Linked DNA regions of Homo sapiens. The protein of the gene in region 1 purifies or fractionates together with the protein of each later gene. This does not show direct contact. Each region holds a gene or a part of one and is shown on either strand. Other genes may lie near its edges.

Region 1 (7,841 bases):
CTTTTTTTTTTCCTAGCTCATATCTGATTTTCACGTGTGCCTTGGGATCACAGGGATGGAAAGGCTGGGCCTCACGGGGACCTCCTAGGTCCAGGGCACTGAGTAGGAGGGCACAGTGGAAGACAGCAAGACTGTCTCACATCTAACAAGCACACTCACCCTCACCCGGTTTTCCTAGGTCAGAGCTTGGGGAAAGCCAAAGGGTAAGGGCAGGCCATGGTCTTCTTACCCCCTGGACACCGGGCGGGAAGACGTACTGGATGACAATGGTGCCGTACTTCTCATAGCTGGGCAGTAGGAGGGTGGCGTCCTTAGAGACCAGCATCCGCCCATTCTGGGGCTGGTTGCCCACCAGCTGCCCATAGAAGCGGCCGCACATGGGGCAGGCCTTTTTCACCTGCAGAGCCCGGGTGATGCAGCCCTCGCAGAATGAATGCCGGCACTTCTCCAATGTCTTGGCATTCTGGATCTCCCCCAGACAGATGGGGCAGGTGCTCTCCTGCTCTTCTGCCTCCTCCCGAAGGCGAGGAGGAAGAGGTGGGGGCAGGGGGGGAGGAGGAGGGGGGAGCCCCCGAGCTCCTGGGGGCAGAAGTGGGGCTGCTCGGAGAGGGGGTGGGCCTGCGCGGTGCATCTCAGGGTGCTCCCCTCCACCCCCCAGAGCCAGGCAGCCCATCAGCTCCCCCTGCCTCTGAGCTTTCTTCAGCTCTTTCTCTGCCTCTTTTAGCAGCCCCTTGAGAGCCTTCCGGGCTAGGTAGAGCCCATTTGGAGGGGCCGGGGGAGGACCCTGTGGGGAAAGCTGGAGAACATAGATGTCAGAAGTCTCGCCATCTATGAGGATGGACACACGGTGCTCCTCCCGAAGCCGGGCCAGCCGGGCTGGGGTCTCTTTGCTCAGGAAGTCCCACACGGGCTTGGACACAGTCACTTTGTTCTTGCAGGTGCCTCCACAGGCTGCCATTCTGGACAGGACGAACGACACTGCCCCCAGGGTGAAAGGGACTCAGGGTGGGGGGTCCCCATTTGACAAGTATCAGTGCCTCCTACTTCAGGTTCCTTCCAAACCCTCTATTACCTCTGTTTTCTCAAAGCCTAATCCCCAACCCTTCACCCAAATTCATATTCTGTCTCCCCTTATCTTCCAAACCCAAAACCCACTGAAGAGCAAAAAAGTTTCCAGAGCTATATTATCATCTAAGCCAAGTATCAGTCTTGTTTCTCCTGTCATTTCTCCCAGATCATAGAAACAACTTGCCCCTCCCACCTCTTGGGGAAAAATGGGCTGTTTAAAGGGGAGGGAGACTCTTTGCCCCTCCTTTTTGCTTACTTTGATCCTGAAGAGCTTAGAATTGGCATGCAGGCTCACTCTTCTTTCCCTGCTCCCTACTTGTAGGTCGTGTGACCTGGTAGGGCGGAAAAATGGAAGGAAAGTGAGAAACCCCTTCTCCCAATTCCCATGGCCCCCAACCCAGCAGCCCATGGAACAGAGACAGAAACCTGGGTATAGGTTACTAAGAATGGCATTACTTGGAACATGGAATGAAGGAAACCAGTTTAAGGGTGAAAATTGAGGATCCCTTGCGGGGGAGATACCTGGAAAGCCCATGGAAGATGATGGCAGCAGAAATCCTTCTATTTCCACTCAGCTGACCAGGACTGGGAGTGGGGGAAGGGTAAAAAGTTATGATGGCAAATGTTACCATTCCCCTCAGCCAACCCAGAAATAAAAACTCCCCTTCCATCTCCTCTCTTCTCTGCAGAATTCCATTATCAGCTTCTCCCCAAGTTGCTCAAGAAGGAACTTCAACATGCTAACCTTCCTCCTTTCTTCCCCAGCTCTGAGGCCCCCAAGAAAGCCTAGGGCACACATAAGAGAAGTCAGGAAAGAAAACGCCCACACAGGTGGAGGTCTTCTTGCCACCTCCCTCAGATCACATGGACCGGAATATTTCCTATGCTCCCCAACTCCTCGCCTGCTCCACATTGCCAAATAATTCAGCCCCTATTGCCAGGGAGCCTTCCTTGAGAGCTAACTCAGTCCCTTCTGCTGAAGTCTGTTAAGGATGTGAACAAAGTGGCAGCAGCCCCTGCAATAACAAAGTTCTCATTGTCACCTTTTAAACCCAGCACAGGCAGTGCTGTCTGTCAGCTCCCAAGTCTGGCATTTAGGGAGGGGCGGGGCTCACACAAGGGCTCAGCTGGAGGGGCCTGATGTTTTCCCTGAGTCTGGTCGCATTGGGCTACGGGGCTGTCTCCACAACACTTCCAAATGCAGCTCAAACAGAAAGAAGGGCCATTAGTGTGACCTCCATTTATTGACTGATCCAAGAAGGAGCAGCTGTCCCTTCATGCCTCCATCATCGTCCCCCAAGGCCAGATGCACCTCGAGATTCATAAGTGAAAATGGAACCCTAGAGTCTCAGCCCATACAGTCTATCCGCGATGCAACACTTCTCTCCCCATCACGGGGGACCCAGGACCTAGGTGTCCTAGGTCCAAGTCCTGCTGGCACAGAAAAGGGAGGCGGGGCCCCAGTTTAGGGTGGGTCTGTGATTCCTCTGTGGCAACCCAGGCCGGACAAGGAACCAGTCTCTCCCTCCAGACAGAGGCCAGAGGGAGGCACAGCCCGGATGGGCAAGGGTCCCTGGGGGCATCCACTGAAGCAGCTCCCGCCCTCCCCCCACGGCCTCCTCCAAGACCCGACCCGGAACCAACTCCCCACATCCCTCAGTAGCCAAAGCCCCCGGATCCCCACCGCCGGGTGGGGGTGCATGTCGGCCCGATCGCAGCCCTCAGAACCCCCGAATGGAGGCCAAGGCTGGAGGGTGCTAGAAAGATGATCGGCCGGGCACGGAGCGGGGAGCCCGGAGCCGCGCGCGGGGAGGGGAGGTGGAGGAGGGGGCGCCGGGGGAGCGGGGGGCGCGTGAGGGGTGCGAGCGGGGCCCGGGGGGCGCGCGGTGGGTGTGGGGGGCGCCGGGCTCACCTACCTCTCGTCAGCGCCGCCATTGCCGGTCACATGACTGAGGCTGTTGCTGGGATGACGGTCCGGGCCTTAGCAACAAGGAGGGGGAGACCCCGAAAGGTGGGGGATTGCAGGGGGTGCAGGCTGAGGAAAAGGGAAGGAGGGAGGACAGCACCCCCTTTCCCCTCACAGGTGATAATCACCGTTCCTTTGACCCCCTTCTATCCGCAAGCCCCTGCCCTTCCTCCCCAAAACAAAAATGGAGGCGCTGTCCCAGTCTTTGGAGGGAGGGGGTGGCGTCATGGAACTGAGGGTAGGAGGTTAAATCCCTGGAGACGCCACCCTACTCGCTCCCCGCTCCCGGCGGAGCACTCTCCCTTTTCTTTCCCAGCCAGCTGCGTAGCAGCTCCCAGGAGCTGGTGGTGGATGGGTGGGTGAAGTGTTGGTGGGTATATGGGGATTCGGGGGGAGGGCGGCAATTTTTTGAATCCTTATGGTAGAAGGGCCTTTGAGGAACAATGTGGGATGGGAAGAGTCATAGTAAAAAGAAAAGCATTGGCTCTAAAAAATAAACAAATCCGGGTACTAAACTATTTCAATCCCCTCCCTCATCTCCTGCCTCTTTCTAGATTGTTACCTCCTATGACCCCCACAACCTGCTCTCAGATGATCATTGGTCAGTGCCTCTGATTTTTCTTTCCACAAACAGGGATATGGAGGCTGGTGCAGAATGGGAAGCGAATACATTTTTTAAAAAGTGGCTCGAGGTGGTGGTGGTGTCAAGTGTATGGTTCAAATAGAGTTAAAAACTCTCAAAGAAGAAAAAAAAAAAGCTCTGCTCTGCTTCCCACATCAAGCAGTCTCCGCCCAATCCAACTCACTTCCCTGGGGCCACATCAAGCCAGGTTTTTCCACCAGCCAAAAGACTTCCTCAGCCAAGACAGGCAGGAATCTCCCAAACTGGCAACAACCTCTATTCATCCACCCCTTTTTCACTCCCCCCTCTAGACTGGAGGGCTAGTCACTTTCTTCACTTTCCCAGGACCCTGCTGTACTCTTCCTTCCCTCCAGGAAGAGGACAGCTTTCCCAGGAAGCCTGGGGGAATACTAGATTCCTTTTCTTTTAGCTGGTGGGCTGAGAGGCCTACTCACCTTTACAAAGATGGAGTGTTAGCAAGCCCAGAACTCTGGGAAGAGGAAGGGTCCCATCACCCTACTCTTCCCTGGCCCTCACTACCGCTGACCTCCCACAAGGTTAAAGACTAAGTTTTCCATTCCCGTGCACACCCTTCACAGCCTTTTTAAAAAAGTTCACAGCCATCTGTCTAGAAACCCACATCCTTAGTTAGGGGCCCAACACCTTGAACACCAGAATTCTTCAGCTGGTCTCTGCACCCTTAAACACAGGCTCCCTGAGAGAAGTGAAATTTAAAAAAAAAAAAAAAAAGGCATTTCTGTACAGAAATTTGGATTGAATAATTTATTCCCTGTATTATTATAGTAACAGGAGCAAATACATAAATTTTTATTAATAAAACAAAAAAGATGAAAAACAGAAGCAACAAATGAAGACATCCATACTGCCCATAACACATCAGCCATATGATCAGAAAACCCATTTCTAAAGAGCAATGGTTGCTGGTGTCACAGAGTTTTATTGCATTCATCGGGGGAAAGGGAGATGGTTGGAATGAAAAAGATCCATCAGTCTTCTGACAGGAAGATGTTATATGGGGGCTCCAACCCCTAACTGGGTACTCCTCTTGCTACCACCTTTGGAGCAGAAGATGAAGGGGAGAGGGAGCTTCTCCCTATGGCCTCATGGCTTCTTGTGAGACAGATCAGTCCAGCCAGATACAGAGCAAAGCAGCTTTGCATCACCACAGGCCAGTTGCTGATGCCCAGCTTTATGTCTAAAAAAAAAAAAAGTGGAAGCCTCAAGGGGGATGGAGGATAGCAAGAAGAATGGGTGCCTTGGCCCCAGAGGCATTGTAGGGAGAGGAAGACAATGTATCTCATCAGGGTTCTCAACATTATGAGATTATCACACATCAACTATCTTTGGAGGGGCTGAGTGATTGAGTTATGGCTCTGACTCCTCTCTGGGGGTGGAGAGTGAAGATGACAAAGAAGGCCATCTGTCCCCTAGGAGACACAGTTGCAGTATAAGACAGGACAGAAGAGAACAGAAAAACAAATCCAACTGGAAAAAGGGGTGGGAGAAGGAAGTGTGCTAGGTACACACATCCAGGGAGTAGGGGAAGTTCCCACACTTGAGGCCTCCATCCTCTTGAAATGACCAGAATTGATCCAAGTAGAGATATTCCTTTCTTCTGGAAATAAACCTTGGGGATGGCTAGGCAGGATGAAAGGAAACTTTACATGGAGAATGAATCCTACACCCTGGCCCATCATTCCAGCCTCCAAAACTGGCCACACACCCACTGAAGGGTTCCAGTCCCAGGAGAGGTGTGAGGTTCTGGTGAAGAGCAGCAATAGTCAAACATCTTCCCCCAGGCTTGAATGCTTTTGGCCATCTCTGGGTTGCTGTGCCCAGATGTAGAGATGGGTGGAGATGGAATTGAGGTAAGGGAAGAGATTACTCAATCTATGACAGAGACCCAATCCAATTCTCTGCATAATCATGAGTCCTCTTAGGTCCCACCTCTGTGAGGTGCCAGGCTGCTGACCCACTCTCTACCCCACCTGTGTAGGAATGGCCATATTCCATCGTGTGTGTGCATGCCTGCACCCACATCTGTAGTATCTTGAGTGTCATCCATCCTAGGGCCCACCAGGAGGGAAGCATGCCATAGTGAGTTTTATAAAGTTATCAGCAAAATTCAGACACTTTTAGTTCATCCCACACAGCAAAGTGCATCCAGAGTAGTTGCTTGAGCCAGGTCCATCTGTCCAGTCAGGTCCTGAAGAAGGCAAACAACCCCCTTCCCCTAGCTCCTATATCATAGAAACAACAGGAGATATTACAAAGATCAAGGCACTTGGGAGAGAGTCAACAATAACATTCTAATACTACAAGCAGACTTCTCATGGGGAGGAAGAGAGGGAAGAAAAATGGGCAAAGAGGAAAAAGGACAATGTATTTCTGAGGGTCAGAAAGAGCCTACTCGACAGGATGGAGTTATCTGGATGGAAGGAGCCTGCAGCCTGAATTTAGCAAAGGAAGAAGAGAACTGGTGGCTAGAATATCCCCACAATTCCCCCAAGTGTCTCAGAACCCCACCACCTTGAACATCAGAGAGAACCAGGCAGTCTCTTAGGCAAAGATGTTGGTAATAAAATCCAGGAATCGCTTAGCATACTGCTCCGGATGGACAGTAGAGATCTCTGCCCCAGCCTGTGAGAGGAGATACGGAACAATATGTCAGGCCACCCTAGCACCCGTCCCCATCACCCCCACCCAATCTACCCCAGACCACCTCCATTCTTTTGCCACCCCATTGCTCTGGCACAAGAGACTCTATTCCCAAAGAATAGTCAAGACAGGAAAGGAAAGGCTTTTGCGAACTCTCACCCCATGCTTGACAGTTTTGGCTGCATGAGCTGCTTTCTTCTTAGCATCATACTGTGTAAGGATATCAATGAGGCCCATGAAGTAGACCTCCTTCTGGGGGGCTCCTGGGAGAGAGACCAACAATTCAGAGTAGGTTTAGTTCCAATTCCCTTTCTCCAGGAAGCAGTCAGTTTTGTTCTGAAAAGCTAATCAGGCTCTCCCCCAGCACTCTGGTCTCTGTCCTCCAGGAAAAATCCCCTCTCCACCCTTAAATTGTCCCGGTTCTCTCACCTTCAGCACTCCGGATGGCATAGACATCAATGAAGGACTCAAACTCTCCTGGGCCCAGGGGCCGATGGGAATGGATGTAGCCTCCGATACCCTCTGGGGAGGTGCCATAGGAGCCCACCAGAGCAGGAGGTCCAGTCAGGCTGCAGTCCCCATCCACCTCTGACTCATCCTCCCGCACGGGCGCTTCCTCCTCTGGTTCAGAGCCCCGAATGATGTCGTGGATGCCTAGCAGAAGGCTGTAGTCCATGATCTTCAGCTGCACTAGAAACTGAGACCCACTGACAAATCAGACACCTCTCTCTCACTCTTCACTGCTAGGTATCACCCCTGTACCTGTACCTTTGAATTTCTGGGGCCCTTCTGGGGAAAGGAAGTATAAAAATTGAGGTTGCAGGGCATACCACTGCCTTTAGTGCCTATATGTCCTAGTATCTAAGATCATCCTTTTAGCTTATTCCAGCCACCCCTTCCACGGGTCAGCTCCAGGGGTTTTTCATGTCTCATACTAAACCCCCATATAGGCAGAGGACCTGAAGAATAAAGGGAAGGGGAGGAGCTCCCTCATACCGTGAATGAAAGAGACAACTACCCTCTAGGGAGCAAAAAAAGGAAAGCCATTTCCCAGAGCACCCAATCATCACCTCCACATCTCTCTTCAGCTTCTCCAGAAATATTTTCTTCTCCTCTTCACCAATATATACTTTCTGGTTCTTGTTGAGAAAGTCCATATCCTTAAGGGTGGGCAATTCTTTAACCTAAGAATATGTAAAGGGACATCTTGGGAACATATCCCTTCCCCAAGGTCTCAGAACCCCACCTTCTGTCTAGGGCTCTATGCTAGCTCAGTTAGATCTCATCTAACTCCACACTGTGATGCTTCCCTGGTCTGTTCTCACCTCCAGTGACTTCCACAGACTCAGTCACTACAGCTGTATCCCAAATCACATCCCACTACTCTCTGCTTATGGTTTTTAGCCAAGACCCTCCAGGCTGACTTTTCTTTCTCCTCTTTTTTTTTTTTTTTTTTTTTGAGATAGGATCTCGATCACTCTGTTGCCCAGGCTGGAATGTAAGTGG
Region 2 (7,020 bases), on another chromosome or scaffold:
AGATGATAGGAAGAAAAGGGGATAAGTAGGGGAACCTGTAATATTACCACCAATAACTACCCCCAAACAGTGCCATATGAAGCAGAAATGAGAGAATGTGTGTTCTCAAGGCCTAGGGTGAGATCAAGGCTAAAGAAGGTAGGACAGGGTGCTGTACTCCATTAGGGCTAGAGAAATCTCGAAAGAAGACCCATGGGCAATCAGTGAGTAATAAGCATGAAGTCAGCATGGTACGGTGACGGGGTAGGACAGTAGGACTTTGTTCTCCGACAGGAGTAACTTGGATCCTTACCCTATTTCTTTACTAGATAGGGAAATTTGAGTAACTTACCTTTTTGAGCATTTATTTCTTTTAAAAATGCAAATGTGTGGCTGGGTGCGGTGGCTCACGCCTGTAATCCCAGCACTTTGGGAGGCCGAGGCAAGTGGATCATCTGAGATCAGGAGTTTGAAACCAACTTGGCCAACGTAGTGAAACCCCGTCTCTACTAAAAATACAAAAAATCAGCGAATTGTGGTGATGCATGCCTGTAATCCCAGCTACTCTGGAGGCTGAGGCAGGAGAATTGCTTGAACCCGGGAGGCGGAGGTTGCAGTGAGCTGAGATCACGCCATTGCACTCCAGCCTGGGCAACAAGAGTGAAATTCCCGTCTCAAAAAAAAAAAAAAAAAAAGCAAATGTTACTCACCTCACCCTTTAAAGAGATAAAGGGTGTGAAGTACCAGGACCATGGTAGATGCTCAGCTTACATTAGCTCCTGCCTTCCTCTTTCCCCATCACTCTACTCCCAGCATTTTTCTAGAACTAGGCTTCCAAGAGACAGCCATCTGGAGAGAATGATTGCCCTCTTCTTCCTCCCTCCACTAACAGTCTTTCTAAAGGATGTCATTACTCTCTTCAGAGATCAGTCCAGTAGACTTAATATGAATTTCCAAACCCCTCAGGCCTAGAAACATCCCTAAACCTGATTAGTGGAAATAGGAATTTCTTGATGAAGAAAGCATCTTGCTACATAATTAGAGATGATAAGCTTAAACGCTAAAATAGCTGTTTGGCATGATTTTGTGTGAATATATTCATGAAATCAACCAACCAAAAATAGATTGTGTCATATCCTTCCTTGTTTTTATAGAAGCAAGGGGCATGGGCAAGCAGGGCCCCTGATGTTGGAAAGGAGCCTCCAGGGAGGGAAGAATTAACAGGCTGGAGGACTAGGCTGGGAACTGAAGAGAACCCCGGAGGCTTCACACCTGTGACTAGTGTTGATCTTTTGTTAACTTTTAAATGGCCTGAGTCCATAGAAACTGCATCCTGAGAGGTTGCTCGGCTAGAAAGCGGAAAACCGCTTCACATGAGTGCTCTACTTTGTAATGAAAATAAACACTATTAATACAGGCAATTGTACACTGAAGGATCATTGTATTTATATTTGTAATTGTATAAGTAACACAAATATATTTTGGTTGTAACTATTAAGCTATACAGATAAAGCGAAAGTCTGTCATTCCCCCTTAATCCTAAAAATGCTTAGCTCTCTCTTGAGAGTAAGAGTTCTCAAAATTTTGGTCTCAGGACCCCACTACACACTGAAAAGTAATGAAGAAACTTTTAAAGGGCTTTTTGTATAGTGAATTAACATCTGTCAGTATTCACTATATTAGACATTAAAACTGAATTTGTTTTCGTATTCATTTAAAGCTAACAATAATATACCTATTACTTGTTAACATAAATGACCCTTTTTAATAAAAAATAACTATATTTTCTTTTAATTTTTTTTTTGGGGGGGGGACAGTTTCACTCTGCCACCCAGGCTGAAGTGCAATGGCACGGTCTTGGCCCACCACAATCTCTCCCTCCCAGGTTCAAGTGATTCCCCTGCCTCAGCCTCCCGAGCAGCTGGGATTACAGGCACGTGCCACCACGCCCCATTAATTTTTGTATTTTTAGTAGAGATGGGGTTTCACCATGTTGGCCAGTCTGGTCTCGAACTCTTGACCTCAAGTGATCCGCCCACCTCAGCCTCCCAAAGTGCTGGGATTACAGGCATGAGCCGCTGCGTCTGGCCATATTTTCTAAAACAAAAATAATTGAAAGGGAAGAATGACATTGCTTCACATTTTTGCCAGTTAATGTGCACCTTAGTAACAGAGCTAGATTCTCATGTCTGTTTCTGCATTCAAGTTTCTTGTTACACCATGTGTCATGTCATGTCTCCTCTAAAATAACCCATCGTAGAATAAGAGGTAAAAAGCCAAATAGTATCTTGGTATTATTATGAAAATAATTTTGACTTTGTGGACCCCCAAAAAAGTCCTAGGGACCCCAGGACTCTCCAAACCACACTTGGAGAACTACTGTCCTAGAGGTAGCTACTATTATCACTTTAGTGTGTAACCTTCCAGACTTTTTTTTTTTTAACAAGGACTACTTTATATAGACAGTCATATGTATTCACACATTTCTGAAACTTTTTTTATTAACAGTATATGTATTTCCAATATACTGTTAATAGTTTTCTAAATTGGTATGGATATATTTGCACTCCTTAATTTCCGCATATTATTTCCTAGTATGAATGTACCACAGTTTTACTTAACTATTTACCTGTGAATGACCTTTAGGTTTGTTCTGATTTTTTGCCAATAGTAGCAATGCTGCAGTGAATATCCTTCTATACAAATTCATTTATGTATTCAGTCTTGCAACAAACATTTACTGAGTACCTTCTGTGTGTCTGGTACTATCCTAGGTACTTCAAATATAGCAGTGAACAAAACAGAAATCCCTGCGTGGTGTTTTTGGGTTTATAGCAGGCCTGTTGGTAAACTTTAGACCGTTCAATAATACTGGGATGTTGTACACAAAATTTGTGGTGGTGGTGTTCATAAATGGAGGAAAGTACCCATGGTTTTCATCAGATCTTGAGAGAGCTAATATAACTAAAAATAGATTAGGAACCAGTGATTTAAAGCCTTTTTGATAATATTTATTTTACTTATAATATGGAAAAAATTTCCTTTACAGTCTACCCTCTTGAGAATCGTCTCCTATATTGCTGTGTCACCAACCTATCATTGAGATGAAAAAAGAATCTCCGGGAATGTAAAGCCTCTAAAAAGTATAGGAGGTGTAGGGCTGGGATGGTGTGGCGATGTGTAGTGCACATTTTCATGAGGTGATGTTAAAAAATTTATACGAGGTCATACAGGTTAGTCAGCAATATTACAGGACTCAAAAGTTATTGCCCATTACGAAAAAAATGGGATTTCTGCTAATCACCAGAAGAAAGTTAAATTATGTGAACTACACATGGTTTTCTGTGGTTATAAAGAATGAGTTTTAGAAAGATTTCTACTAAAAATGTTTAACCTGATGTTAAAATGTTTAAAAGCCTACATTTCTATTAATTGGGAAATATAATTCAGAATACTATCCATATTCTCTAAAAATGAGCCTAATGACTCATACTTTAATATAATATAAAAATATTGGTGTAGAATCTTCTTTAGTTTATACAATTAGAAAGTTGCTGATTTAATAAGAAAGTTATGAGAATGTCTTCTTGAATCATTACATTTATCCTGTGAGGCATGTATACAGTTTTGTTTCTGAGGTGCTGTATTAATATTGCGTCCTGGCCAGGCACAGTTGTTCACTCCCATAATCTCAGCACTTTGGGAGGCCTAGGTCAGAGAATCACTTCAGCCTGGGATTTCAAGACCAGCCTGGGCAACATAGGGAGTCCTCATCTCTAAAAAAAAATTTTTTTAAATAGCTGGGCCTGCCTGTAGTCCCAGCTACTCGGGAGGCTGAGTTGGAAGGATTGAGCCTGGGACGTTGAGGCTGCAGTGAGCCATGATCTCACCACTGCACTCCAGCCTGTGTGACAGAGCAAGATCCTGTCTCCAAAAAAAATAATAATAATATGTGTTCTAATTCATTTTCTAAAAATTCCCATCCAAAAAAGCTTTTGTATAATCAGCTATACAGGTTTATGTTGCATACATTAGATATATTACTTTTACGCTACAATGGATTTTTATTTTTAAAGTGAAATCGAGTCAGATTAGTATCATATAGATGTATTTACATCTTAATGTATTTTCATCTTAATGAATTATTTTCAGAGAATGAGCATTCTAAGTAAAGCTGATTTCCGTTTTAGAACTGAACTACCAGACTAGTACTTTAAGAGAATGGTGCAAGGCCTGGCACGGTGGCTCACGCCTCTAATCCTAACACTTTGGGAGGCCAAGGCAGGCAGATCACAAGGTCAGGAGATCAAGACCATCTTGACTAACACAGTGAAACCCCGTCTCTGCTGAAAATACAAAAAAATTAGCTGGGCGTGGTGGCACATGGCCTGTAGTCCCAGCTACTTGGGAGGCTGAGGCAGTAGAATAGCTTGAACCTGGGAGGCGGAGGTTGCAGTGAGCCGAGATCGCACCACTGCACTCCAGCCTGGGCGCTGGGTGGCAAAGTGAGACTCCGTCTCAAAAATAAAATAAAAAAAATGGTGCAGATATGGTCCCCTTTTAATTTAAATAAGGCCTTCAACAAAGCTGTTGTGGCATTCTTTTGATTGAAGTGGAGATAGTGCTTTTAGTTGGTTGCACTGAAGAATTGTTTTCAAAGGATATTGCTTAATGGCTAGATAACAGCCTGGAAAGAATTTTGTTTTTAATCTTAGGATCTCCTCTTAAAAACAGCTTGTTAATATGGAAAAGTATATGGATGATGAATGTTCATGGTCTCACTACCTAGAGGTCTCATTAAAAAGCATACACAACCTGATACACGTATATGTTTTTTTAAAGAAGAGTAAGGTATATATAGAGAGAGTGATACAGTGGGGTGTAAAGTGAAACGAAGTCTCCTCTTCCTGACTTCTCCCTCTGTTGCCCAGGCTAGAGTGCAGTGGCGAGATCTCCGCTTACTGCAACCTCTGCCTCCCAGGTTCAAGGGATTCTCATGCCTCTGCCTCCCAAATAGCTGGGACCAAGGGCATGTGCCATCACACCCAGCAATTTTTTTTTTTTTTTTTGAGATGGAGTCTTGCTCTTTCACCCAGGTTGGAGTGCCGTGGCGTGATCTCGGCTCACTGCAACCTCTGCCTCCCGGGTTCAAGCGATTATGCTGCCTCAGGCTCCCAAGTAGCTGGGACTACAGGCACCAACCACCATGCCTGGCTAATTTTTTGTATTTTTAGTAGAGATGGGGTTTCACCATGTTAGCCAGAATGGTCTCGATCTCCTGACCTCATGATCTGCCTGCCTCGGCCTCCCAAAGTGCTGGGATTACAGGCATGAGCCATCGTGCCTGTCCCTCCTCCTGACTTCTCAAACCCTGGTCCCTTTCCCCAAAGATTTGTTAGCTGTGTCTTAGACATCGTTTCAGATCCACTTTTTTTTATAGACCCATAGAATACACTTATGTCATTTAAACTTACTTATATAATATTACATGCACTCTTTTGCTTTTTTTTTTCCAGTCAATAACATGTCTTGGAGATTTTTTTCCTATAGACATGTATCTACCTTATTTTTTGAGAACTGTACAGTATTTTATAGAATACATATTCTTTAATTTGTTTAACCAGTCCTCTATTAATGATGTTTAGATTTATTTTAGGCTAGTTTCCAGCCAGGCGCCATGGCCCACACTTGGAATCCCAGCACTTTGGGAGGCTGAGGCTGGTGGATCACAAGGTTAGGAGATCGAGACCAGCCTGGCTAACACGGTGAAAGCCCGTCTCTACTAAAAATACAAAAAAAAAAAATTAGCTGGGCACGGTGGCAGGCGCCTGTAATCCCAGCTACTCGGGAGGCTGAGGCACAAGAATCGCTTGAGTTCAGGAGGCAGAGGCTGCAACGAGCAGAGATCACACCACTGCATTCCAGCCTGGGCAACACAGCAAGAATCCGTCTTAAAAAAAAAAAAAATTATTTTAGGCTAGTTTCCAATAAGAATAAACCCCTACTTTTAGTGCCTAACACAATAAAGTTTTATCACATCACAGCTGCGTGCTGGTGGGACAGCCCATCTCCATCTTGTAGCTGTGCCATCTGGCCCTGTGTTCTATAATCTGGCCCTGTGTTCTATAAGATCACCACAGCAAAAGAGATGGCCTGGAAAAGGCTCTAGCTCTTAACTGTCTTGCCCCTCCTTTCTTTGGCCAAAAGAAATATGTGTTTGAGATTGGGAAGTGTCAAGGAGCACCTGGATATTTGGGGAGCATCAGTGGTCTCTGCCACTGTACCAACAGTTAAGTCCTGTATCAGGCTTCAAAAAGAAGAGGAAGTCATTACCCAATTGTTCATTTGAGAAACAAACTCCACATGTATCAGCAATGTGCTCATTTCCTAAACAAGCCTATTGGCTGCATTACTAGATATAGAATGAAATATTTTGATTCTAGGTGCCCCATTTTAAGAAAGATTGATATTGACACTGTCCAGGGACATGTAGTCAGAACATGTAAGGATCTCCAGATTTTTGTGTCCTGAAGGTTTTCAAAGACTTGGAGGAGAGGGCAATGGTTTGTAGGGTACAGAATACTCTTATTCTGTGTGGTTCCCAAAGAGAGAACTAGAACCAATGATGGAGTTTTAGGATGATTTCTCTCACAATGCAGGATATTTAATCAGCAATTAGAGACTTTCATAAATCAAACATAAGCCAGATGACATCTATGAAGAATATTGTAAATATTTTTTGCTTAGCATGGGAGATTGGTCTGGGTAGTCTCTGCGGCCTCTTTTTTAAATCTGGAATTTTGTATCATGAATGTCAAATGAATATTTCTTTTTCTTTTTAAATAGGACACTGATGAAATTCAAGTTAACTATCCTGGAATGTTTGAATTGATGGAAGATTTACAAGGTAAGGCACTTTAAAGAATTTTTAGACTCCATTGGGAAAGGTAGGCCAAAAAAAAAGAATTTTTAGACTCCATTTGAGAGAAACATTTTGAGAGCCAGCTCTTTGGCAGGCACTGGGCAAAGCACTAGGGATCC
Region 3 (7,497 bases), on another chromosome or scaffold:
ATTTTCTACTGCCTCTAAGAATCTCCTTCCTCCTTGTCATTAAGTTAGATGTTAATGCTGTTAGGCAAAATTCCAGACCAGGTACAGAGAAGGTGAGGGAGTCTATTCATTCACCACTGAGGGCAATGGAAACTTGACAAAGCCCTGTTCTCATGATGCTTACATTCTAGAGTGAAGGGAAACACAAATGTTAATTTCAGATAGTGATTAAAAATATGAAGGAAATATGGCAAACAGACCAGCTGGGGTGATCATAGAAAGCTGCTTCTGAGGAGTTGGCATTTGAGCTGGGTGGGACCTGATTACGAGGACAGCCACACAGATCTGGGTGCAGAGCTCCACACCAAGATCACGCCACACACAAATGAGGACTGGAAAGGAAGGCAGGCAGACCTTGGGGGCCATGATGCGGTAGACCATGGTGAGAAGGGCAAGTGATGAGGCAGTAGAGACAGGCAGGGCCTGTGGCCATCACTTGTGTTGCCTGTTCACAAAGGCAGATGACAAGAGGAACCCAAGAGAGCACAGAGGGTCCAGTGAGTATAATGGAACCAAACCCAGCATGCAGATAAAAGCAGCTCGAAGTCTCTTCTCAAGCACACACACAGGTACAGCTCATCTATCAAATGTTCACGAGTCACTTTGTGCCTGAGACATGCCCAAACTACCAGCCTGCTTTTGAACAACTCAAATATCCTGGGATGGCTTTTCAGTTTCTATTTCCTACTTATGCGCCCTTTTCTAGTTCAGCCTTCCGATGCTCCACTCCGTCACAGTGCTAGGAAGAAATTCCCTTCTCTTGGGCACCCAGCCAGCTGCCTTTCTCCAGCTGTATTCTACCAGATTGGAGAACACAGTCATTCAGGGCTTGAAATAAAGTTTTATAAAAATCCAATGCCCCAGCCAGAGTTGCAGTGATGCTCAACTTTCCAAGCACAAAAGGTAAAAATCAACTAGGCACAGGAGAAAGCAGTCGGTTGGAGCTAGCGGGGATTTGGGCTGCCCTCACAGAGGTGCTTCCATCTGTCTTCAATTTGCACTGAACTGCTGATCACGTGGGGCTAGGACAGCGAGGATAGAGAAGAGCCAAGGTTTGAAAACCAGTACTGTTCCTTGCCCTCTGACCTAGGAAAGGTTCACCAAGCTCAAGAAAATCTCAAATTTTGCTGCTCTTCATTTAGCAAACTGTGCTGGGTCTAGCCTTTTTACAAATGTTAATAGTAAATGAAATCCACTGAATTAATCCAAAATCAGGTAAATCTGATCCAAGGATAAGTGGATTCAATGAAAAAGCTAAAGACCACTTCAACTCTCGTGAAGCTTGCTTACACGACTTATTAGTTCATTCAACCATTACCTGATCACTCACCCCACGCACAGAGGTGTGATCCCTGAAATACCCTCCCACTTGCAGAATGAATTTTTACAATAGTTTGACCAGTCATTGGTACTTATTTATAATCAATTCACTGGACTGTAAACTCTGAAGGCAGAGTCTACCCCAAAATCTGGCACACAGAGGCCATTCCAGTCAGTTCAGGGGCAATAAAGATATGGCCACTCCGTCATGAGCTGTTAAGTTTTGCTCTGTGCAAGCAAGGAGAAGGAAGTTAAGTCCCAGAAAGGAAGTGGGGGAAGTAATTTAGATGGGGATGGTATTTGGTGAGGTAACTTAACCTGGGACTTGAAGCCTGAAAAGGGAGGGGTGGGGGGAAGAGTTCCAGGCTAACCGAATTGCAAAGATGAATAGCCTAAAGCAACATGATGAAGCAAAAAGCAGCCAGCTAGGTGCCAAGCACTGTTCTCTGGACTACTGAAATGGTCACCTGCAGTACATCTGGGAAGAGCTAGGCCACGGTGACCCTTCCCTAAGAGAGCCTCGGACCCTCAGTGTATTCACCTGTAAAATGGCTGCCAACCCTCCCCCGCTGCAGGGTGGCTATAGAATAATGCCCATGGAGTGCAATGGCTACTGTGCCCGCTGCCAAGACCAATGCCAAGGTGATCCCACGATAAGCACTGAGAGGGGCCAGAGGAAAAGCCAATTCTGAGGCAAGAAGCAGGTGGCCACGTTGTCTACAATTCTTTCAACTCAGATGTGTTTGTGCGTCTGATGGAACAAGGCTTAGATTCAAATCGACCAACCTGACCAACCTCGAAAGCCCCGGCCACAGCCCAGGACCTGGACTGGACATTTATACACATATCTGCTTTAATCATTATAACCACTCTATTCACAATATTCAGGTCATGAAGGCTTAATTGAAAACTGAAAGAAACAAACCTCCTACACAGGAAGTAGAATGCTAACAATCCCATCTGCCAACTCCCACCCCCCTTTCACAGCTAAGGGCAAACTGGCCAGATCCCCATAAAGACTTCCCTTTTGTTGTTTTAGTCTAGTTCAGCGTTTCTCCCGACTTTAGTGCACAGTAGAATAACTCGCCACAGCTAGACACGACGCCAAATGTCCTATGCTTTAAGAGCGACGTGGACTAGAAAGGAAACGTCGGCTCTCCAAGGGCGGACTTCGGAGCCTAAAGTCCCCGCAGGGCACGAGTCCACTATCACGTGTGGGAAGGAGACTGACAGGCCGCCTGGAACATCGCAGGCGCTCAACAGACAGCAGCTGCCCCGCTAAGACGGGCGGAGGAACGGGATACTTAGGAGTGAGCGGGGCGGGACAGAAGAGCGCCCCGGCAGCTTTCACGGCCCTTAGGAGCCCCGGGGGACACCCCCGGGAGGCCCCTCTGGGTGGGTCCTCTGGCTCCCGCCCTGAGACCCATCTCGCTCCTCGGCTCCATTCCCTTCCCAGTTAAGCGCCCCCCGACCAGGCCCGGGCTCGCCGCTTACACGTGTCCGCAGGGCACCTGTACCGGCTTCTCGTACACCTCTAAGCACACGGGACACGTGAAGCGTCCTAGGGGGTCAGCCTCCGCCGCCGGCCCCGCCAGCTGCGCAGCACCCCCGCAGTCCCGCTGTTGCGCCGCCATCTTGCTGCCGCTCTGCGCCGCGCAACGGCGGCCGATGAGGAGGAGGCCGAGGGGGCGGGGCTCGCGGGGCGGTGAGCGGTTGGGGGCGGGGCTAGCGGGTGGGCCGCCCCTCGGGGCCCCTCTGACGCAAGCGAGCTAGAGGCCGAGGGAAATCTGGAAAACGTGGAAGCCAAATCCAAAGGCTGCCAGAATTGGGACGGGCTCTGCGCGTGGGCCGCTGTTTTCCAAATTTATCGTTAGTTCGGCACCACTTGCACTATCACTATTTATCTTCGAATCAAGTTGCTTTTTCCTTAAATTTATTTATTTATTTATTTAATCTATTTTGGGACAAGGTCTTGCTTTGTCGCCCAGGCTGGTGTTCAGTGGCGCGCGCGATCATGGCTCCCTGCAGCCTCGACCACCGGGGTTCAAGCGATCCTCCCACCTCAGCCTCCTGCGTAGCTGGACCACAGGCAGTCACCACCATGCCGGACTAATTTATTTATTTTTGTATTTTTTGTAGAGACGGGGAAAGGAGGGGGGGAAGGAGTGGTGCAGAGAGCGGGCGGGTCTCACTGTGTTGCCGAGGCTGGCCTCGAACTCTTGGACGCAAGCAATCCGCCTGCCTCGGCAACCCGAAGTGCTGGGATTACAGCGGTGAGCCACAGTACCCAGCCATTTCTTAAATTTAAGCAAATTCTAATAACAGATCTAATTCCTGAGCTGCAAGAAGAAAATCAATATCATTTATTTATACAAAGGAGCTGGGCAAGGTGGCTTACTTCTGTAATCTCAGCACTTTGGGAGGCCGAGGTGGGCGGATCGCTTGAGCCTAGGAGTACTAGAGCAGCCTGGCCAACATGGTGAAACCCCGTCTCTACTAACAATACTAAAATTAGCCAGGCGTGGTTGCCCATGCCTGTAGCCTCAGCTACTCAGGACGCTGAGGCAGGAAAAGCCTTTGACCTGGGAGGCGAAGGTTGCCGTGGGCCAAGATGGCTCACTCACTCCAACAGTCACTAAACTCCAGCCTGGGCAACAAGAACGAAACTCCGTCTGAAAAAAAAAAAAAAAAACAAAAACACAACCTGGCTAACACGGTGAAACCCTGTCTCTACTAAAAATACAAAAAATTAGCCGGGCGTGGTGGCGGGCGCCTGTAGTCCCAGCTACTCGGGAGGCTGAGGCAGGAGAATGGCTTGAACCTGGGAGGCGGAGCTTGCAGTGAGCCAAGATCTTGCCACTGCACTCCAGTCTGGGCGACAGCGCGAGACTCCCTCTCAAAAAACAACAACAACAACAACAAAACAAAACAAAAAAACCCCAACAACAAAGTACATTCATTTCATATTGTGCAATCATCACCATCAGCTATCTCTAAAATTCTGGTCTTCTTGCTAAACTGAAACTGAAATTCTGTCCCCATTAAACAATAACTTCCTCTTCCCTCCTCCCATCCCCATACCCCCAGGCCCTGGCAATTTTCTGTCTATGATTTTGAAGCACTTATAGCTATAAAATTTCCCCTGAGCACTGCTTTCACTGTGTCCAGTAAATTTTGGCATGCTGTGTTTTTGTTTTCATTTGTTTCTCAATATTTTCTCTATTTATTTAATTAATTTATTTATTTTGAGATGGAGTCTCACTCTGTCGCCCAGGCTGGAGTGCATTGGTGCAATCTCTGCTCGCTGCAGCCTCCCTCTCCTGGATTCAAGCAATTCCCTTGCCTCAGCCTCCCAAGTAGCTGGGATTACAGGTGCCTGCCACCACGCCTGGCTAATTTTTGTATTTTTAGTAGAGACAGGGTTTCACAATGTTGGCCAGGCTGGTCTCAAACGCCTGACCTCAAGTGATCCGCCAACCTCGGCCTCCCAAAATGCTGGGATTACAGGTGTGAGCCACCCAGCCTGGCCTGTTTCTGAGTATTTTCTAATTTCCCTTGTGATTTCTTCTTTGATCCATTGGTTCTTTTAAGAGTGTGTAAATTTCCACAAATTTGTGAATTTTCCAGTTTTCCTTTGATATTGATTTCTTTTTTTTTTTAACCCCCCCATATTGATTTCTAGCCTTATCCAATTGTGCTTGGAGAAGATATTTGGTATGATCTCTTTTATTTCTTCTTTCTTTCCTTCTTATCTTTCTCTCTTTCTCCTTTTCTTCTGTCTCTTTTTGTAGAGATGAAGTCTGGCTGTGTTGCCCAGGCTGGTTGCAAACTCCTGGGCACGAGCAATCCTCCTGCCTCAGCCTCCCAAAGTGCTGGGATTACAGGCCTAAGCCACCACAGCTGGCTGATGTCTACCTTTTAAAATCTCTTGAGGCTTAATCTGTGGCCTAACATATGGTCCATCCTGGAGGATATCCCATGTGTGCCTGAGAAGAATGTGGATGCTGTTGTTGCTGGGGAGTGTCTGTACATGTGTTAGACCTGGTTGTCTTACTGTGTCGCTCAAGTCCTTTATTTCCTTACTTGTCTCCTGTTTGTTCTATTTATTCTTGGGAGTGGGGCATTGAAGTCTCTAACTATTATTGTGGAATTGTCTATTTCTTCCTTCAATTCTACCAATTTTTGCTTCATATGTTCTGATGGTCTGTTATTAGGTATATAAATGTTTATAATTGTTATATCTTCTTGCTGTATTGAACTTTTTATTAACATACAATGCCTTCTTTATCTCTTGTAACCTTTTGGACAAGTAATTTTTCTTTTTTCTTTTTTTGAGACAGGGTCTTGCTCTGTCGTCCAGGCTGGAGTGCAGTGGTGTGATCTCAGCTCACGGCAACCTCTGTCTCCTGGGTTCAGGTGATTCTCCTGTTTCAGCCTCCTGAGTAGCTGAGACTACAGGCATGCACGACCACGCCTGGCTAATTTTTGTATTTTTAGTAGAGACAGGATTTCACCATATTTTTTAGGCTGGTCTCAAACTCCTGACCTCAGGTGATGCACCCGCCTCGGCCTCCCAAAGTGCTAGGATTACAGGTGTGAGCTACCGTGCCCGGCCTGGACAAGTAATTTTTCTGATATTAGTATTGCCAGCCCTCCTCTTCTTTGGTCACGCAAAAAGATATTTGCATGAAATATCTTTTTCCATCCTTTCAGAACCAGTCTATAAAGTGAGTTTCTTATAGAGAGCAATACAGTTGAATCATGTTCTTTAAAAAAAAAAAAAAAAAAAGCTGGGTATGGCGGCTCATGCCTGTAATCTCAGCAGGAGGAGGCTGAGGCGGGTGGATCACCTGAGGTTAGGAGTTCAAGACCAGCCTGACCAACATGGTGAAACCCTGTTTCTACTAAAAATACAAAAATTAACCGGGCCTGGTGGTGCATGCCTGTAGTCCCAGCTACTTGGGAGGCTGAGGCAGGAGAATCGCTTGAACCTAGGAGGCAGAGGTTGCAGTGAGTGGAGAACGAGCCACTGGACTCCAGCCTGGGCAACAAGAGTGAAACTCAGTCTCAAAAAAAATTTCTTTTAAATTAATTTTTTTTTTTTTTGAGACAGAGTCTCGCTCTGTTGCCCAGGCTGGAGTGCAGTAGCACAATCTCGGCTCACTGCAAGCTCCGCCTCCTGGGTTCACGCCATTCTCCTGCCTCAACCTCCTGAGTAGCTGGGACTACAGGCGCCCACCACCACGCCCGGCTAATTTTTTTTGTATTTTTAGTAGAGACGGGGTTTCACCATGTTAGCCAGGATGGTCTCGATCTCCTGACCTCACGATCGGCCCACCTCGGCCTCCAAAGTGCTAGGGATTACAGGCGTGAGCCATTGTGCCCAGCCTAAATTTTTCCTTCCTTTTTTCCTTCCTTCCTTCCTTCCTCCCTCCTTCCCTTCCTTCCTTCCTTCGTTCCTTCCTTTGTTCCTTCCCTCCTTCCCTCCCTTTCTTTCTTTCCTTTTTTTTTTTTTTTTTTTTTTTGAGACAGAGTCTCACTCTGTCACCCAGGATGGAGTGCAGTGATGTGATCACAGCTCACTGCAGCCTTGACTTCCCAGGCTCAAGTGATCCTCCTGCCTCAGCCTCCTGAGTAGGTGAGACTACAGGCATGTGCCATCACACCTAGCTATTTTTTCTATTTTTTGTAGTGATGGGGTCTCACTATGTTGCCTAGGCTTTTTTTTTTCTTTTTTGAGACAGGGTCTGGCTCTGTTGCCCAAGCTGGAGGACAATGGCAAAATCTTGGCTCACTGCAACCTCCACCTCATGGGCAAAAGCCGTCCTCCCACCCCAGCCTCCCAAGTAGCTGGGACTATAGGCGTGCACACCACACCCAGCTAATTTTTAAATTTTTTGTAGAGACAGGGTTTCACCATGTTGCCAAGGCTGGTCTCGAACTCTTGAGCTCAAATGGTCCTCCTGTCTTGGTCTCCCAAAGTGCTGGGATTACAGGAGTCAGCCATCATTATTAAAATTTGTTTGCTTAAATTTAAGAAAGGGCTGGGCATGGTGGCTCACGCCTGTAATCCCAGCACTTTGGGTTGCTGAGGGGGGTGGATCACTTTTGTCCAGGGGTTTAAGACCATCCTGGGTA

The links. Proteins that work in one complex are often made in the same cells at the same time.
Region 2: the proteins of DTX3 (region 1) and NDUFAF5 purify together in Homo sapiens (affinity purification with mass spectrometry; 4 studies listed by BioGRID and IntAct, with this or other methods). This does not show direct contact.
Region 3: the proteins of DTX3 (region 1) and RNF114 purify together in Homo sapiens (affinity purification with mass spectrometry; 5 studies listed by BioGRID and IntAct, with this or other methods). This does not show direct contact.

What each region holds. Positions count from the first base shown.
Region 1 is NC_000012.12:57,600,002-57,607,842, reverse strand, and holds the start of DTX3 (probable E3 ubiquitin-protein ligase DTX3), read right to left. Parts: upstream 3,020-7,841; 5' UTR 2,985-3,019; exon of another isoform or gene 2,273-2,984; 5' UTR 2,112-2,272; exon of another isoform or gene 1,654-2,111; 5' UTR 1,591-1,653; intron 1,401-1,590; 5' UTR 1,354-1,400; coding exon of another isoform or gene 1,326-1,353; coding exon 1,325-1,325; intron 979-1,324; coding exon 230-978; intron 1-229. Other genes in the region: PIP4K2C (phosphatidylinositol 5-phosphate 4-kinase type-2 gamma), read right to left, coding at 6,237-6,317, 6,495-6,598, 6,765-7,032, 7,406-7,519. UniProt on the Homo sapiens protein: Regulator of Notch signaling, a signaling pathway involved in cell-cell communications that regulates a broad spectrum of cell-fate determinations.
Region 2 is NC_000020.11:13,802,017-13,809,036, forward strand, and holds part of NDUFAF5 (arginine-hydroxylase NDUFAF5, mitochondrial), read left to right. Parts: intron 1-1,133; coding exon of another isoform or gene 1,134-1,316; exon of another isoform or gene 1,317-1,400; intron 1,401-6,825; coding exon 6,826-6,886; intron 6,887-7,020. UniProt on the Homo sapiens protein: Arginine hydroxylase that mediates hydroxylation of 'Arg-111' of NDUFS7 and is involved in the assembly of mitochondrial NADH:ubiquinone oxidoreductase complex (complex I, MT-ND1) at early stages. May also have methyltransferase activity.
Region 3 is NC_000020.11:49,931,909-49,939,405, reverse strand, and holds the start of RNF114 (E3 ubiquitin-protein ligase RNF114), read right to left. Parts: upstream 3,010-7,497; 5' UTR 2,994-3,009; coding exon 2,854-2,993; intron 1-2,853. UniProt on the Homo sapiens protein: E3 ubiquitin-protein ligase that promotes the ubiquitination of various substrates. In turn, participates in the regulation of many biological processes including cell cycle, apoptosis, osteoclastogenesis as well as innate or adaptive immunity.